4 linked regions of the Homo sapiens genome follow. The protein of the gene in region 1 purifies or fractionates together with the protein of each later gene. This does not show direct contact. Each region holds a gene or a part of one and is shown in the gene's direction. Other genes may lie near its edges. The genes, in order: AHDC1, ADNP2, CRTAP and ZNF280D.

Evidence for each region.
Region 2: the proteins of AHDC1 (region 1) and ADNP2 purify together in Homo sapiens (affinity purification with mass spectrometry, with the first as the bait; one large-scale study listed by BioGRID). This does not show direct contact.
Region 3: the proteins of AHDC1 (region 1) and CRTAP purify together in Homo sapiens (affinity purification with mass spectrometry; one large-scale study listed by BioGRID and IntAct). This does not show direct contact.
Region 4: the proteins of AHDC1 (region 1) and ZNF280D purify together in Homo sapiens (affinity purification with mass spectrometry, with the first as the bait; one large-scale study listed by BioGRID). This does not show direct contact.

What each region holds. Positions count from the first base shown.
Region 1 is NC_000001.11:27,601,095-27,606,218, reverse strand, and holds the start of AHDC1 (transcription factor Gibbin), read left to right. Parts: upstream 1-2,074; 5' UTR 2,075-2,113; intron 2,114-2,355; 5' UTR 2,356-2,491; intron 2,492-2,724; 5' UTR 2,725-2,822; intron 2,823-5,124. UniProt on the Homo sapiens protein: Transcription factor required for the proper patterning of the epidermis, which plays a key role in early epithelial morphogenesis. Directly binds promoter and enhancer regions and acts by maintaining local enhancer-promoter chromatin architecture.
Region 2 is NC_000018.10:80,136,052-80,140,551, forward strand, and holds the end of ADNP2 (activity-dependent neuroprotector homeobox protein 2), read left to right. Parts: coding exon 1-2,758; 3' UTR 2,759-4,295; downstream 4,296-4,500. UniProt on the Homo sapiens protein: May be involved in transcriptional regulation. May play a role in neuronal function; perhaps involved in protection of brain tissues from oxidative stress. May be involved in erythroid differentiation.
Region 3 is NC_000003.12:33,123,286-33,127,785, forward strand, and holds part of CRTAP (cartilage-associated protein isoform 1 precursor), read left to right. Parts: intron 1-1,122; coding exon 1,123-1,294; intron 1,295-4,500. UniProt on the Homo sapiens protein: Necessary for efficient 3-hydroxylation of fibrillar collagen prolyl residues.
Region 4 is NC_000015.10:56,629,139-56,632,972, reverse strand, and holds the end of ZNF280D (zinc finger protein 280D), read left to right. Parts: intron 1-850; coding exon 851-1,475; 3' UTR 1,476-2,797; downstream 2,798-3,834. UniProt on the Homo sapiens protein: May function as a transcription factor.

The sequences.
Region 1 (5,124 bases):
CATGCTTTTCCCAAACTCCCCTTCATCTCAACCTACTGGGGCTCTCCACACCCCAGAAACCATCCTATATTATCCCACCCAACTCCCTCCTAAAACTTGATTCAAACTGAGTAGAGTCTTCATGACTACAGGCAGAATCTAATGGGTAATGGGGGAAGGGAGAGAAAGGAGGAGGAACCTGGGTCTCTTTCACCCTCCCCAACGCCGAAGTCTGTCTGTCCTATAGGGGGCCAGCTAGGGCAAGGTGCCAAAGCCTCATCTATTTGGGATCACTTCAGGCCCAGGCTTTGGAGCTGCAGAATCTCTAATGACTTTAGCCACTACTTTTATGAGCATCTGACCTTATATTTCCCATTCAATGAATAAATCTTTGAACCCAAGTCCTAACTTGTCTGCAAGGAGAAGCTGCTCCAAGATGAGGGCCTCTCCAGTCGGTCATGGCAGCCCCATGATGCCAAATCAATAGTGTCCCGTTTAGAGCCCTAGACCTCTCCTATTACTGCTGCACACACCCTCTGCCAAGGGCCAATAGAGAGTGTTCCCCAGATCCCCTCTCTTGTCCTCTGGGGGTACTGGACTGCCATAGAGAAGGAGCTTGGAAGGAGTGAAGGTGTGGGGAAGATAGTGACCAGGGAGTTGCGGTTGGCAAAATGTCACCAGCTGCCTTTGTCACACACTGGCCAACACCCTGCAAGGCCAAAGGAAGAGTCAGAAACAGGTAGGCCAGAGACAAAGGCACTGCTCTAGGAACTTCAGACCTGGAGCAAGATAGACAAGGCCAGCAGACACAGGGTGTGGAACATCAGACACACAGATGAGGTGGTCCAGTGAGGTGGGACCGCCGCAGGGCCAGTCAGGGCCGGCGTTGGTAGACACCTAGGACACAGGACACGACAGCCACTATGCATTATTCATCTCCGTGTCCCTTGCAAGCCCTGCATACCTCAGTTAACATTTGTTGAAGTGCCAAGAAAGGACACACAGACACAGGGAGAGAAGGTCAGTTACAGAAATGGAGGGAGTCACAACTCCTTGTCATAGCCCAGGGGTTAAGCTTGTGGGGTTTGGAGTTAGTCAGACCCTGGTTCAAATCCAGCTGGGTTCAGCCACTTGCTAACTGGAGAACCTGGACCTCAGTGCCCCCATCTCTAAAATGGAAATAACAGCACTATTTTACCGCAGCAGTTCAGCCATCTCCGGGGGCGGTAACAAGGCCCCCAAGCAGCGCACATTCCCATCTGTGGGATAGGCTAGGCAGGGGCTGGAGAACACATGTGACCTGAAGAGGAGGTAGGTGAAAGTGCTGAGCCCAGCCCCCGGCCGCGGCAGGAGGTCAGCACCGTTCAATCTGAATCCTGCTTCCTGACACAACGCAAATGCTCAGCAGAATTCGGAAAAGGGTGTGTGTGTTCTATCTGCGGATTATCCAGGACTTTTGAGCCCTCGCCGCCCTTGGACATATAGGAAAGCTGGGAGTTGCAAGGGCGAAACCGAGGTCGGAGTTTGAGAGGAGGGGTCACTGAGTGAGGAAGCAGCGCTGGCTGGGTCTCCCCCGCTCCCCCGCCCCAGCAGCCCTCCCGCCATATATACTTGAGCTTTACTCAATAAGAAACCTTTTCAGAAAAGGATAACGTCCCCAGATTGAGAGAGCCGGTCCTCTCCTCTGCCCTCTCCCCCTCCCATTTAATTGGGACGCCCCAGAAAGTCGCAGCCCCTTTGGCTAATCCCCTGGTTCCCTATTCCACTCCCATTCCACTCTCAGACCCCGCCCCTTCACTCCCACCCGCAACCTCCGCTCGATCCAGAGCCCCCCGGTGGAGACAAGGAACACAGGGACCATTCTTAACCCTTGGGGAGGATCTTCGCCCGTTGGTAAACGAGGACGCGCTCCAGCCAGACGAGCCCCAGGCGCGGGGTCCCCGGGGCTCCTGGCCGCGCCGTCGGAGCAGCCGGCGCGGCCCCGCCCTCCCCGCGCGCGGAGCGGCCGGGGCGGGGACTACAAGTCCCGGCGTGCCGCGCGCGCGCTCCCCCCTGGGGTTCCGGATGGTGAGCGGCGAAGGTAAGGCGAGCTCGCAGAGGCAGCGGCGGCGGCGGCGGAGACGGAGAGAGGCAGGCAGGCAGGGCGAGGGCGAGAGACGGAGGGAGGGAGCGAGCGAGGCGGACCAGACAGACAGACAGGCGGGCGGGCGGGCAGAGCGAGCCACCCGCCAGGCTGCGCTCAGCCCCGCTCGCAGCGGAGAGAGCAGAAGGCAGGAGGAGGGAGGGGAGGAGGGGGAGGGAGGGAGAGAGGGAATCCAGCTACCACCACCCAAAGCCAGCGTCTGCTTTCTGTCCTCATTTCCTTTTCCCACCCAGCTTGGAGAGCAGAGAAAGGCAGAGAGAGCGAGAAATAGAGACAGTCTGAGAGACAGACAGACAGCCAGAGAGAGCGGGAGGGAGGAGGGCGGAGGAGGAGGAGCAGGAGGACTACGCGGGGCGCGTTCCCTCCCAGGTTTGCTATTGGGGGGGGTGGGGGCGGGGGTGTCCAGGGCTGGGAGAGTGTGTGCGCGGCGGGAGGGCGAGGGGGGCGCAGAGAGAGCGAAGGAGTGATCGAGGTGGGGGGGCGCCGCGGGAGCGGGGGGCCGTGTCCAGCGGAGTTAGCGGCGGAGAATGTGAGCCGAGGCGCGAGCCATGCTGTCAGCGACGGCGGGCGGCTCAGGGCTCCTCCACGACTCCTCTCCTCAGCAGCCGGGCGCCCGCGTCGCTGCCACCGCCGGAAGACAGACGTCCCCCAAAACCCCTCGCCTGGCTCGGACCCACGGAGCCGGCAGCCCAGCACTCCGGTGAGTGGCGCCTCCTCCCCAGCCCCAGACCCCCGCTGGGGACCGGCCGGCCAGGCTCTTTTGTGCAGCGCACGGGGGGGGCCTGCGTCCCCCGGTCCGGTCCGCTGGACCCGGTGGCTGCGGTGCCCGCGGTGCGATCGGTCTTTGTTTCCACCGGGGCCCGCGGCTCGGCTGGGCTCGGCTCGAAGCCTGGCAGGCAGCGCCGGGAAGGGGGAGGGGGAGGTGGACGGGGAGGGGGGGCGGGGAGGGGGGGTTCTCGGGTTTCCTGGCCGCCCCGCGGCTCCCCCGGCTCGGGGGCGAGGTGCGCGCCCAGCGCTGCCGCGCGCCCCCTCCTCCTTCCCCCTCCCTCCGCCTTTGGATTTAAAACTGCAATTTGCTCTCCAGCTTGCTGAGAATGTGGGGGGGGGGGGAATGAAGGGGGGACCGTGGGAGCGGAGAACAAGGCTGGATTTTAGGATCGGCGCTGGGAAAAGGGGAGACTGCGGAGGGAGGAGCCCCTCCCCTCCAACCCCCAAATCCCTAGGATCCACTGGCTCTCGGGGAGTTGAGGGGCGGGGACCTAATGACCCGGAGGGGGTGTGGGGCGGAGGAGGGATTTGGGGGCGGCTAGGGCTGGAGGGGTTGGGCCGCGTGCCCGGTTACCTGGCGAACAAAGTCGGCTCACTTTTGCATAAATAAATAAATAATCGCCTATCAATGCGTTTCCTCTGGGGCTCTGATTGAATCGGCCCCCTCTTCCCCAGGGGGTGGGGTGCTGAGTGACAGCTGTCAGCCCCCTAGGCAGGGAGCTGGGGTGAATTGCTGAATCTCTGCTCGCTGCTTGAGGGCGCCTTCCCCTGCTGGGTCTGGGTCCCCGGGCAGAGCCAGAGGGGCAGGGGGCTGGCTCTGAGTCTAGGAAATAACCTTGTTTCCTGTTCTACAGGAAAAGGGACAGCAACCCAGAGTTTGGGGGCTGGGGATGAGGACTGATGGGAGCTTGGGGGGGTTCCCCAGCAGCCTGACCCCCCAGCCTCCTGCCAGGCGAAGGGGCCAGCTGAGGGAGGAAGGATGTGGGCCTTGCTGGCCGGAGGCGGGAGCTGGGGCTGTCCCTGAGGCGGGCAGCGGGCACAGAGCGGGAGGAGGGAGAGAAGCGGGGGCGGGAATTCTCTACCGCAGACCCTGGGGGCCAGGGCCAGATGTGGAGGGGTGGGGAGTCTCCCCTCCCTCCCAGCTTGGGGGCCCTGGGGCTGGGCTGGGAGGGGCTGAGCCTGGTGCCCTCGGTTCTGCACCAGTGCCTGACTGGCAGGGCCAGCTGAATTTGGGCCCAGGCGTCACCCTGGGAGGCAGGGCCGGACTGTACCAGCCTGGTCCCTGAGCACAAGGAGGGACCCTTGGGGGGCCTGTGCCTGTCTGGCTGGGCAGGCGTTTCCCGCCGGACCAGTTGGTGTCAGGCGGGACTTGGCCCCAGCTCCCTGGGCAGAGCTCAGGGTGTGAGGACAAGCTTTGCCTCCGGGTCAGGGTGGCCACATTTTGTCCGCTGCTGCTGTCGCCGCCGGCTGGGCGGGGGCATGTGCCCGGGCCTGGGCAGAGTCCTGCCAGGGGCATTTGGGGTGTTTCTATTGTTGGCTTGTTCCTGTTCTGTGTGGCTGTGTGAGCTGGGGCTGTAAGTGAAAGATTACCAGTCTGTCCCCCAACCTGGGGTGGGGGGGTAGGAAGGCTGGGTTGTGGGGGGACCCCCCAGGTGGCATGTGCATGCTGCTTGCCATCTCCCTCCTTTGAGCAGATGTATATTTATTTTTATAGTAATGGAAAATCAAACTGGATAGTAAGTTGAATTCATTTTTTTCTCCTGCTGTGTCAATAGTTGGAGTAATCCCCAGAGACTGGTGAACTTCTGGCCCCAGAGCTCCCACTCTTCAGGGGTTGCAAAGACCAGTAAGGGCATAAGCTTTGGGGGACCAGTGGCTACCAGCCCAAACCAGTGAGTTGTCCTTCTTCATCTGGCTTTGGGGCAGATGCCCAGGTGGGCAGGCATTGCCCCCTCCCCAGGAATCACCCACAAGCCCAAGGTGTAGTCTGGCCTTTCTAGTCTGGTCAGTGCCTAACTGTGCCCAAGCCCTCAGGAACGTTCCCCTGGTGGGCGCTCTCCTCCGCCTGGGCTCCCAGCCCACGTGCCGATATTTATTTTCTGTAGTAAAATCCATTTTTAATGCCGTTACTTTTGAAATAATATAGAGAGAAACAAATGTGATGTGTTTAAGTTGCCCTCTGTGAGTTTTTAATGTGATCTATGGCTGAGGTAGTGATGGAAGGAGCTGTTGGG
Region 2 (4,500 bases), on another chromosome or scaffold:
CAAATATTACTGTAAAAAGTGCAACGCCAATGCCAGCAGCCAGGATGCGTTAATGTATCACATTTTGACATCAGACATACACAGAGATTTGGAGAATAAGCTTAGATCTGTGATTTCAGAACATATTAAGAGGACTGGACTCTTGAAGCAAACGCACATTGCTCCAAAACCAGCAGCACATTTGGCTGCACCAGCAAATGGCAGTGCTCCAAGCGCTCCAGCGCAGCCTCCTTGCTTCCATCTTGCTTTGCCACAGAACAGTCCAAGCCCAGCCGCAGGACAGCCAGTGACTGTGGCCCAGGGTGCCCCTGGAAGCCTCACTCATTCCCCCCCTGCTGCTGGCCAATCCCACATGACTCTGGTCTCCAGCCCTCTGCCTGTGGGCCAGAACAGCCTCACCCTGCAGCCCCCAGCACCTCAGCCCGTCTTTCTTTCTCACGGGGTTCCACTTCATCAGTCTGTGAATCCTCCTGTGTTGCCCTTGAGTCAGCCAGTCGGACCTGTCAATAAGTCTGTTGGAACTAGTGTCCTCCCCATAAATCAGACTGTTCGCCCTGGGGTTTTACCCCTCACCCAGCCTGTGGGACCCATAAACAGACCTGTTGGGCCTGGTGTTCTTCCTGTGAGCCCCTCTGTCACCCCTGGGGTCCTGCAGGCTGTCTCGCCAGGGGTGCTTTCTGTGAGTCGGGCGGTCCCGTCTGGAGTCCTTCCTGCAGGCCAGATGACTCCTGCAGGCCAGATGACTCCTGCAGGGGTTATCCCTGGGCAAACAGCAACTTCTGGGGTTCTTCCTACTGGCCAGATGGTCCAGTCAGGAGTTCTCCCTGTGGGCCAGACAGCTCCGTCACGGGTTCTTCCCCCAGGCCAGACAGCCCCATTGAGGGTTATCTCTGCAGGCCAGGTGGTCCCGTCTGGGCTTCTTTCTCCCAACCAGACAGTCTCCTCCTCAGCTGTTGTGCCTGTAAACCAGGGTGTGAATTCTGGTGTTCTGCAGCTTAGTCAGCCTGTTGTGTCGGGAGTTCTTCCTGTGGGCCAGCCAGTGAGGCCTGGGGTCTTGCAACTCAACCAGACTGTGGGCACCAACATTCTGCCTGTGAATCAGCCAGTGAGACCTGGTGCTTCGCAGAACACCACCTTCCTGACATCAGGCTCTATTCTCAGACAGCTCATCCCTACAGGGAAACAAGTGAATGGGATTCCAACCTACACGCTGGCCCCCGTGTCTGTCACTCTGCCGGTTCCCCCTGGAGGCCTTGCGACTGTCGCTCCGCCCCAGATGCCCATCCAGCTCCTGCCGTCAGGTGCAGCTGCACCAATGGCCGGTTCCATGCCCGGCATGCCCTCTCCTCCAGTGCTGGTGAATGCTGCTCAGAGCGTGTTTGTTCAGGCCTCCTCCTCTGCAGCAGACACAAACCAGGTGCTCAAACAGGCCAAGCAGTGGAAGACCTGCCCTGTCTGCAACGAGCTCTTTCCGTCCAACGTCTACCAGGTCCACATGGAGGTAGCGCATAAGCACAGCGAGTCCAAGTCTGGTGAGAAACTTGAGCCTGAAAAACTGGCAGCGTGTGCACCATTTCTAAAGTGGATGAGAGAGAAAACGGTGCGATGTCTGTCTTGTAAGTGCTTGGTCTCTGAGGAAGAGCTTATACACCACTTGCTGATGCATGGCTTGGGGTGCTTGTTCTGTCCATGCACCTTCCATGATATCAAAGGTCTTTCAGAGCACAGCAGGAATAGGCACCTGGGGAAGAAGAAGTTGCCTATGGATTATAGCAACAGAGGTTTTCAATTAGATGTCGATGCCAATGGCAACCTGCTCTTTCCCCACCTTGATTTCATCACCATATTGCCAAAGGAGAAGCTTGGGGAGCGGGAAGTCTACTTGGCAATCCTGGCTGGGATACACTCCAAGTCACTGGTGCCTGTGTATGTGAAGGTGAGGCCTCAGGCTGAGGGCACCCCCGGGAGCACCGGCAAGCGAGTGTCCACCTGCCCCTTTTGCTTTGGCCCCTTTGTGACAACTGAGGCCTATGAGCTGCATTTGAAGGAGAGGCACCACATCATGCCCACAGTCCACACGGTCCTGAAGTCTCCCGCCTTCAAGTGCATCCACTGCTGTGGGGTCTACACGGGAAATATGACCCTGGCTGCCATCGCCGTCCATTTGGTGCGCTGCAGAAGTGCTCCCAAGGACAGCAGCTCAGACCTGCAGGCCCAGCCGGGTTTTATTCACAACAGTGAACTGCTTTTAGTCAGTGGTGAAGTGATGCATGATTCCAGTTTTTCTGTTAAGAGAAAGCTGCCTGACGGCCACTTAGGGGCCGAAGACCAGCGGCATGGGGAGGAGCAGCCTCCCATCCTAAATGCCGATGCAGCCCCGGGTCCAGAAAAGGTGACGAGTGTTGTGCCTTTTAAAAGACAAAGGAATGAAAGCAGAACAGAGGGACCTATTGTCAAGGACGAGGCTCTTCAGATTTTAGCATTAGATCCTAAAAAATATGAAGGCCGTTCTTATGAAGAAAAGAAGCAATTTCTTAAAGATTATTTCCATAAGAAACCATATCCTAGTAAAAAGGAAATAGAACTGTTGTCCTCACTCTTTTGGGTGTGGAAAATTGATGTGGCTTCATTTTTTGGAAAAAGAAGGTATATTTGCATGAAAGCAATAAAAAATCACAAGCCTTCTGTACTTTTAGGCTTTGATATGTCTGAACTTAAAAATGTGAAACATAGATTGAACTTTGAATATGAACCATAAAACTTGCAAAAAAAAAAAAAAGTAACTCTAAAGTAGTAGGTAGATTTTTTTCAGTTGAAATTTCACAGTGTTGTCCTCACTGTGTTGGTGAATCAACCTCAGTGGTCACTGTGCTGCTCTGCAGAGTTACTTCAGGTGCTGGAGAGACCCCTGTTACCAGGAAGCCAGTAGTTATTTCACATCTATTGTTTCCTGCAGTTTGATTTGTAACAGAACAGTTGTTTTCAGGTTTTTTTCTCTGTCATGTAAATGAAATCTTTTGATATTTCATGCACGCCTTGTTTTCCCACTAGTGTCAGTATCGTATGATAAGAAACTGAAATCTATAAATAATTTGCTTTTTCATTAAGGACATTTCAGCCTTTTTCAGAATACTTGATTTAACTGCGAGTGGAAGCATCGATCTCCTTCAGCTTTCCCTGTAGCAGCAGATGGTACAGTGAGTGTTCAGAGACGTGGGTACAAACCCTGTGATGTATGTATAAGGCTCCCTGAGGATGCACTGCATTAACTTACGCTGACTTCTTTGTAAGATCTTTGCTTATAGATTATAATTTAGATCTGTATTTTTTTAGGTTTATCCTAATAGCTGTTTTTTTTTTTAACCATAACTCATAGAAAATCAAATGTTTTTATTTGTTAAAAGTAGACTGAATTTGACATCTGGTATGCTGGTATGTAGCTCATACATCAAGAGTTATTTTACAAATAAATTTATTCTGTAGATGCAGAAATATTTTTCAGTGTAGATTTTCCCTTTTGATATGCTAAGTCATTTCTCCGTTCAGAGGTAAAACAATAAATTTTTAGTGCCTTTAGAATAAACATTGAAAGAATACACCCCAAAACTCTTCTCCTAACTTAACTACTCATAAACTAGTGAAAGGGAAGGTCTATGATACTCAGGAATAAGATTATTGCCCCTGAGTGTGAAAACTAACTTAAATTTCAGCATAGGGTTTCAGGGGACATGGCGAAGTTTACAGACTGAGATCTCAGTCTCCATGGTTGGTACAGTAAGTCTTTGACCACATTTTCTGAAGGTCATGTTTAGTGGAGAAACGGGCTTTTCTCTAGCTGGTTTAGGCTGGAAGCTGTGTCCGGGTCGATGGGATGGCATATTGTTAAAGAATCTCCATTGTCGTCACTGTCCTGTGGATGTTAAACCTCGTTTTTTTCCCCACACGATATTAAAACTTAAAGCACCAGAACCAGTCATGGAGACCAGCCAGTTTAGATGGTAAGTCATATTTCTGGTGGTACACAGCAGAGGAACCCCTTCACTCTATCTTTAGGTAGAAATATTTGGAGGATGTGACAGCCTCTGAGAAACATAATGTTACTATGTGGATTTTAAAAAATATAATACTTGCATGTAATTGCTATAATGTTCATATTTGAGGCAGTTGTGAAACTGGTTTATGATTGTTGGTGTACTCTGTTGTAAATTCAAAGAGAGCTTGTTGAACATTTTTTTTTTTTACCTATTGTTTTCAGAGTGTCTATTTTGAATTAAAATTTGTTACACCGCTGCAAATAGAACTGTTTAATTCTTTTAAAAGTTAAAACATTATTGTGAATCATAGGGATAACCTCTATATGGGAATAGATACCACATTTATTTTCTAAAAAAACCTTACCTGTCATTTGTGTGAAAATAAGAACATAACCCAAAAGGTCTAATTACTGGGGTCACAAAATAGGTGTAACTACAGATTCCTGATGATTCTATACTGGTAGCC
Region 3 (4,500 bases), on another chromosome or scaffold:
TGTCCAGTTGTAATCCCCAGGGTTGGAGGTGGGGCCTGGTGGGAGGTGATTGGATCATGGGAGTGGATCCTTTATTAATGGTTTAGCACCATCCTCTCTGTGCCATTCTCATGATAGTGAGTGAGTTATCATGAGACCTAGTTGTTTAAAAGTGTGTAACACCTCCCCGCTCTCTTCCTTCTTCTCTGGCCATGTGAAGTGCCGGCTCCCTGTTTGCCTTCTGCCGTGATTGTAAGTTTCCTGAGGCCTCCCCAGAAGCAGAAGCTGCTATGCTTCCTGTATAGCCTGCAGAACCATGAACCAATTAAACCTCTTTTATTTATAAATTACCCAGTCTCGGTTTTTTTTTTTTTTTTTTTTTTTTGACAGAGTCTCGCTCTGTCACCCAGGCTGGAGTACAGTGGCACAATCTCAGCTTACTGCCACCTCCGCCTCCTAGGTTCAAGTGATTCTTGTGCCTCAGCCTCGTGAGTAGCTGGGACTACAAGCATGTGACTACACCTGGTAATTTCTATATTTTTAGTACAGATGGGGTTTCCCTATATTGGCCATGCTAGAGGTATTTCTTTATAGCAATGTGAGAACAGACTAATATACCTGCTCTCAAACTTACATTTTTCTTTTCGTTCCATTTTAAAAACCAGTTTTATTGAGGTACTATTTATATACAATATATTTATCAATTTTAAGTGTATAATGCAGTAAGTTTTGACAAATACATCCAGTCCTGTAACTGCCATCATAGTTACGACATAGAATATTTTCATCACCCCTGAACAATTTCCTCTTGTCCTTTTGTAGTCAAGTTTTTGCTGTAACCCCTGACTTCTGGCAGCCACTGATCTGATCTCTGTCATAGTTTTCCCATTTTCCTTAATTCAGATTATTATCAAGGGCCTGCTACTTTTTGAATTGAACTAAATAAGAAATGTACCCATCATAAGCAAAGTAGAAAAATCTAGATATAAAGTAACTCACTGATTGACTTCTTCAAGGGCCAGTGTGGCTTCTTCAGAGCTAATGAGAGCTAGCTTGGTGGTGGTCTTGGTTCCCTTTGAGATTTCATGACTGTCTCCCTTCACGCCCAAGAGCGAGCTTCACTGGCTTCTCCATGCCTTTCAGAGCCTGTTCATCCGAGCAGTGCGGGCATACAACGGTGAGAACTGGAGAACATCCATCACAGACATGGAGCTGGCCCTTCCCGACTTCTTCAAAGCCTTTTACGAGTGTCTCGCAGCCTGCGAGGGTTCCAGGGAGATCAAGGACTTCAAGGATTTCTACCTTTCCATAGCAGGTTGGTGGTAGGTCAATAGGCTCACTACTCCCATGGAATAGTCTTCCTTAGATGTCTGGTTTCTGCCTGCATGCCTGCTAGATGCCTGGAGCAGCCTCTGAGGAATTTTTGAGCATACTTATTAACGGGTAACTGAGGGTAGTCACCACCTGCATAGATAAACCTTTGACTTGGCAGGGGCTTCTAGTGAAATCACTGAGAGAAGGTTCAAGCACAGGCCTGCCAAGGTAGAATTCTGTGTCTGCCCTACTTGCTTACAGATTTCCTACAGTCATTTTGAAAAATAAAAATGGGCCCAGGAGCACCTCAGTGACTCACATTACTGAGATAACTTTGATGATGGCAATTTTCCAACACATATAAAGGTAGAATGAACCTTTAAGTGGCCATCACTAAGGTAGCTTTTTGAAATTTTCTTTTCTGATTATAAAACAATGTGTGCTCATTATAGGAAGTTTGGAAAACACAGAAAGGAAAAATGAAGAAAGGAAGAAAATGTAAAACTCTACACATAGGTAGCCCAGATTTCTCTATAGTGCCTAGACATTTCCCAAGTGCTTTACTGGGCAGCATCACTCCAGAAACTGGGAAATGGCTAAGGGAAGCTCTTTCCCAAAGTGGTTTGAGAACACTGATCCTAGAACTGTGCCTTCCTGAAAGCACTAGATAAGTAAAATCTGGACTGTACCTTGGATAAAGGTATCATGTCTATGTACTTGTAAATAAGTCTGGGAATGGGCTGAGCACTGACTGCATCTCCCACTTGAAGAATCATTGTGCACTTTAATGGTTAAAGGCCCTTAGAAATCCTGCAGTAGAGAAGCTCTTTTAAAGTTATTGAATCCAGCGTTTTCGGTTTTGTTTTTTTTTTTCAGTCACTTTTTATTCATTAATCTCTTTCTACAAAGTAGGTTTTTTTTTTTTTTTTTTTTTTTTGCCTTAAGAAAACTTCTTGTTATGGAAAATTTCAAACATACACAAAAAACAGAGAGAAGAGTAGATAAACCACCATGTACCCATGACCCAACTTCACAATTGTCAACTCATGGCTACTTGAGCTTCCTCTAATTCCCACCTACTTTTCCTCTCATGTTATTTTGAAGCGGATTCCAAATGCCATATTATTTCATTTGTAATATTTCAGTATATACCTTTAGAAGGTAAGGACTCTTTGTTTTTTAAACATAACACCAAACTATTACCCCTGTAAGAATTTTAACAATCATTCTTTGATCTCATCATTAAATACCTAAACAGTGTCCCAATCATTTCAGAAATGTCATAAATACATGTGTGTGCCTTTAATTTACCATTTGTTTGAATCAGGATCCAAATAAGGTCCATCCATTGCAATGGGTTATCTCTTGAAAATTTTTATTGTGGTAAAATATACGTTAATATGAACTTTATTATTTTAGCCATTGTTCAATGTACACTCCAGTGGCATTGACTACATTCACATGATTGTGCAACCATCAGCACCATCCATCTCTAGAACTTTTTATGTTTCCCCAAATTGAAACTCTGTATGCGATAACTCCCCATATCCCCTTCCCCCCAGCCACTGGCAACAACCTTTCTACTTTCTGTCTTTGTGAATTTGACTACTCTAGATACATCACGTAAGTGGAGTCATACAGTATTTGCCTTTTTGTGACTGACTCATTTCACTTGGCATAATGTCCTCGTTTCATCCATATTGTGGCAAGTTGGTTATCTTTTATGGCTCGTTTAATCCATAGGTTCTTCCGCCATATCTTTTCCCCTTTGCTATTGAAGAATCTGCATTTTTTGTCCCGTAGAGATTCCCATGGTCTGGGTTTTGCTGACTGTATCCCCATGTTCCTCTGTCTTCTGTATTTCTTGTAAATCGGTAATTGGATGTAGAGGCTTGAACAGGCTCGGTTTGATTTTGTTTTAGGGTTTTAAATTTTGGTGGGAGTCAACTGCTTCATAGTTGATGCTGAGTTCTTTCATCAGGAGGCACATAATGTCTGTGGTTTCTCTCCATCTATCTTTGATACAGCTAAGATATATATGTATTGTAAATCAAAGAGTATCTGAGACAAGTCTCAATCAATTTAGACAGTTTATTTTGCCAAGTTAAGGATGTACTTGTGACACAGACTCAGGAGGTCCTAACAACATATGCCCAAGGTACTCAGGGCACAGTTTGGTTTTATACATTTTAGGGAGACATGAGACATCAATCAATATATGTAAGATGTACATTGCTTCAGTCCAGAAAGGCAGGACAACCCAAAGTGGGAGGGGGTTTCCAGGTCATAGGTAGGTGAGAGACAAATGGTTGCATTCTTTTGAGTTTCTGATTAGCCTTTCACTGAATATGCAATTTGCAGGAATAGTCACTTATGCTTTAGTCTGGCTTAGTGAAACAACAGAGCAAAGGAAACAACCATATATACATTTGTTCCATGTGAGCAGAGGGATGACTGAGTTCTGCCTGTCCTTTGTCCACAAAAACTTCCTTGTGGGCAAATTATGAGAGAGATTTGTGGCTTTTTTTTTTTTTTTTTAAATTTTTGTAGCTATCTTATTTAGGAATAGGATGGGAAACACATTTGTCCTACATGGTTCCCAGCTTGACTTTTCCCTTTGGCTTAGTGATTTTGAGGTCCTGAGATTTATTTTCCTCTCACAGTATAGATATATAGATATTTAGAGTTTCTTTAGTTTTTATTTTTAAATAATTTCAAACTTGTAGAGAAGTCGGAAGAATCATACAAAGAACTCTCATGTACACCTTACCTAGATTCACCAATTTGTAACATTGATTGTGCCACATTTACTTTATTGCTCTCTCCATATGTGCTGTGGGTATAATTATTATTGTTATTATTTTATTTATTTATTTATTTATTTTTGACATGGAGTTTCCCTCTTGTTGCCCAGGCTGGAGTGCAACGGCGCGATCTCGGCTCACTGCAACCTCTGCCCCTTAGGTTCAGGCAATCCTCCTGCCTCAGCCTCCCGAGTAGCTGGGATTACAGGCATGCACCAACACGTCTGGCTAATTTTTATATTTTTAGTAGAGACGGGGTTTCACCACGTTGGCCAGGCTGGTCTCGAACTCCTGACCTCAGGTGATCCACCCACCTCGGCCTCCCAAAGTGCTAGGAGTACAGGCGTGAGCCACCGCACCCGGCCTATTATATTTTATTTTTGAGACTGAGTCTCACTCTGTC
Region 4 (3,834 bases), on another chromosome or scaffold:
GTGTACAAACATGCACACACACTTAGATGTGTATGTATGTTATATATTTACATATACTTTTTCAGGCATGTGTTTTTTTTTTAAATTGGGCTATTAAAAATTAGAAAAATATGTTTGAATGCTTATCTGATTTTATGTATGGAAAGACATTCTAAACATAAGAAGCTATTTAAATCATAAAGGAGACTGGGCATGGTGGCTCATACCTGTAATCCCAGCCCTTTGGGAGCCAAGGCAAGAGGATTGCTTGAGCCCAGGAGACCAGCCTGGGCAACATGGCAAAACCTTGTCTCTATGAAATATAAAAAAAATAGCTGGGCTTGGTGGTGTGCACCTATATTCCTAGCTACTTGGGAGGCTGAGGTGGGAGGATCACTTGAGCCCAGGAGGTCAAAGCTGCAGTGAGATATTTGCACCACTGTGTTCCTGTCTGGGTGACAGAGCAAGACCCTGTCTCAAAAAAAAAAAAAAAAAAATCATAAAAAAATATAGATTTTTTTCCAAATATATTTTTTTATTTTAGGTACTTTTACAAGTTAATAAAAATACTTAAATTTAAACTAGAAACAGGCAAGAGATATGAACAGATGAAAATAATGACAGCCAGGACTAAAACTAGTTGATAGATATCTTTTAGTATGTGATTCCAGAGTTTCTCAGAATCTTGCCTAAGAAAATGGCCTCCTCCTAAATTTTACTGCCATAGCGAGGATTGGGAACTTGGACTGTTTTCCTTTTTGGTGGGCAAATGTACCTTGACTTTTTATTTTTTAGAACACGTCTTTATTTTGACAGTGTTCAAAAACATTGCTTTATGAAGAAATACATAATAAATGACTTTATTTTTCAGTAAACAAGATAAAGCTGCTTCTTCAAAAGAAAAAAATGGATGTAATGCAAATTCATTTGAAGGCTCATCAACAACAAAAAGTGAAGAAAGCATAACAGTTTCAGATAAGGAAAATGAAACCTGTCTTGCAGACCAGGAAACTGGCTCAAAAAACATCGTCAGTTGTGATTCAAATATTGGTGCAGATAAAGTGGAAAAGAAAAAACAAATACAACACGTTTGTCAGGAAATGGAGTTGAAGATGTGCCAAAGTTCAGAAAACATAATCTTATCTGATCAGATTAAAGATCACAACTCCAGTGAAGCCAGATTTTCTTCAAAGAATATTAAGGATTTGCGATTAGCATCAGATAATGTAAGCATTGATCAGTTTTTGAGAAAAAGACATGAACCTGAATCTGTTAGTTCTGATGTTAGCGAGCAAGGCAGTATTCATTTGGAACCTCTGACTCCATCCGAGGTACTTGAGTATGAAGCCACAGAGATTCTTCAGAAAGGTAGTGGTGATCCTTCAGCCAAGACTGATGAAGTAGTGTCTGATCAAACAGATGACATTCCTGGAGGAAATAACCCTAGCACAACAGAGGCAACAGTAGACCTGGAAGACGAAAAAGAAAGAAGTTGAAATTAGTCATTTTAAGTTTCAGTGTACCAACGATAAGGGCATTTGGAACAGTGCTATCAGGTGAGCTCAGTGGTGCTGTTGTAGGTTCAGAAATGGAAATATGTAAGGGAGGTCACACATACACTTTACCTGTATGTTCAACCTATGTTATCAAACAAATCAATTCACCAATAATAGCATGATTAGTAGGGATTCCCAAAAAGTTTTTAAAAACACGAACAGGATTTTAATGATAATTAAATTTGCAGTGGAAAGGTCTCATTTAATGGTTTTCAAGGAAATGGGATTTGGTTGCTGACATGAATTGATGATATTAGTAATATTTATAAAGCCTTTCAAACTTCCATCAATCCTAAGCTAAAAATCTTTATTACCTGTATATCCTTTTCAGTTAACTGAGAGGAAGGGATTTGGAAACCATGTACTTTTGGGGAGTAATTGATTAAAAACAATGGCTGATTGGCATTGTTAATGAAGGCTTTATTTGTGAGGATGATGCTGGTAAATGGAGCATGCTTAGAGTACTAAATTGATCTAATGAGAATTTGGATGAACATAAACTTAATTTTGGATTTAATATAACATTCCAGTCAGACGCATGTAAACAGAATATTTGAATCTTTGTACCTCCATACAAGTGTTAGCCTGCCAGGCTGTAAGCTTACCTTAATTAAACTTTCAGTGAAAGTGGAATTATTAAGATATAAATTTATATTTGTGCTTTTTGTCAGTGTGTAAGCTGTGTAGAAATTCTTTGATGTATTAGTTGTATTAATGTAAAGTAGAAACCCATTGTTGAAACTCCTGTAGCTATTATGCTTTTAATATTGTTTTAATGATCTTCCTTAGAAATAGGCCCATAAAAATGGTCTGGAAGCCAAACCAAAGTATGGTATAATGTAGATATTGTAAAGCAGTAAACTGAAAACATGTCCTGGCATGTATTCAGCCATGTTTAAGTGACTTTTCTGTAATTGTAAAATAAAAACTTCAAATGGGACCTAAAACAGTGATGTAAAAGAACTGGTTTTGGAAATTTAGCCTAATTTATCTATAAGATGGCTGCTAAATTGATTTTTCAGTTCTTTTTATCATCTAGAATATAATAGATATAGAAATGAATAATATGAAGAACAGTAGTTTGCTTTGAAATACTAATAAACTTTTATTTAAAATGCTTCATTTTTACTTCTTAAAATGTGCTTTGGATTCTTAAATTTTGTTTCACTGAATGTTCAATGTTTTAAATGGCGATTAAAATACTCTGCTGTATATAGTAGTTTTTGAGTAAATATTTGCAATAAAAATCTGCCCCCGAATAATTCTATTTTTCCAATCACTGCTTGATTCAGATTACCTTTGGTGCCTTTAGAAATTATATACTTGTTCAAGAAATTTAATATCAGTGTTAGTGGTGAGGATTCCATTCTACATTCTTTAACTGCTGATACATTATTTTAAATTAGGACTTAAAGTACAGGGGACAATATTGCTAATATTTATGAGAATAGATTTGCTTTATAAATTCTTTTACTTCAAGAGAAATAGAATTTAATATTATACTTTTCTATCTGCCCAACAATTTAAAGAGGCTAAATAGGCAAAATATATTATGAATTATTTGGAGTATTTTGGGGAGGAGAGCTAATATTTTTATCTTTCCTGCTCCCAAGAAAAGATAGGGAGAGAGGGAGCCATTAGCTCTCATCCTTCACCTTGTTAAAATGTAATTCTGTATCATGGAAGATTTTTGGAATAATATAAACCTTAGAAGAGCAGGGTTAGGAAAAACGCCTGTCTCTATAAGGACCACTTGTGAGTCTCATTCAGTCTGTTGCCACATTATCACATTATGACACCATAATCCCTTTGGAGCTTTGCTACATCAGCCCCCATATACCTTTTGAGTAGTGGTATTCAAAGTAGCAGGTCAATGAACTGTTTGTACCTATATACTATGAGAAAAGGAACCTATACTGGACTGTAAGTGCTTCATTGAGAAAGTCTGGCAATGAAAAAAAAAATAGCTGAATTAAGAATTGTATTTGGTACCATAGCTGGTTTACATTCTCTTTCAATCTCCTTATCTCCAATCAGGAACAACCAATCCAGGTATGCAAACCAAACCTTTGGTAGCAGTGCTTTAGAGCAGCGGTTAGGAAACCTTCTCTACAGGGCCAGACAGTAAATAATTGTGGGCCATGTGCTACAATTACCCAACTCTGCCTTGTATCATGAAAGCCACTGTAGATGATATGTAAATTATGAACCTATTTGTGTTCCAGTAAAACTTTATTTACAAAAATAGGATGTTGGCTGGATTTGGCCCATGGACTATAGTTTGCCTACTCCTGCTTTG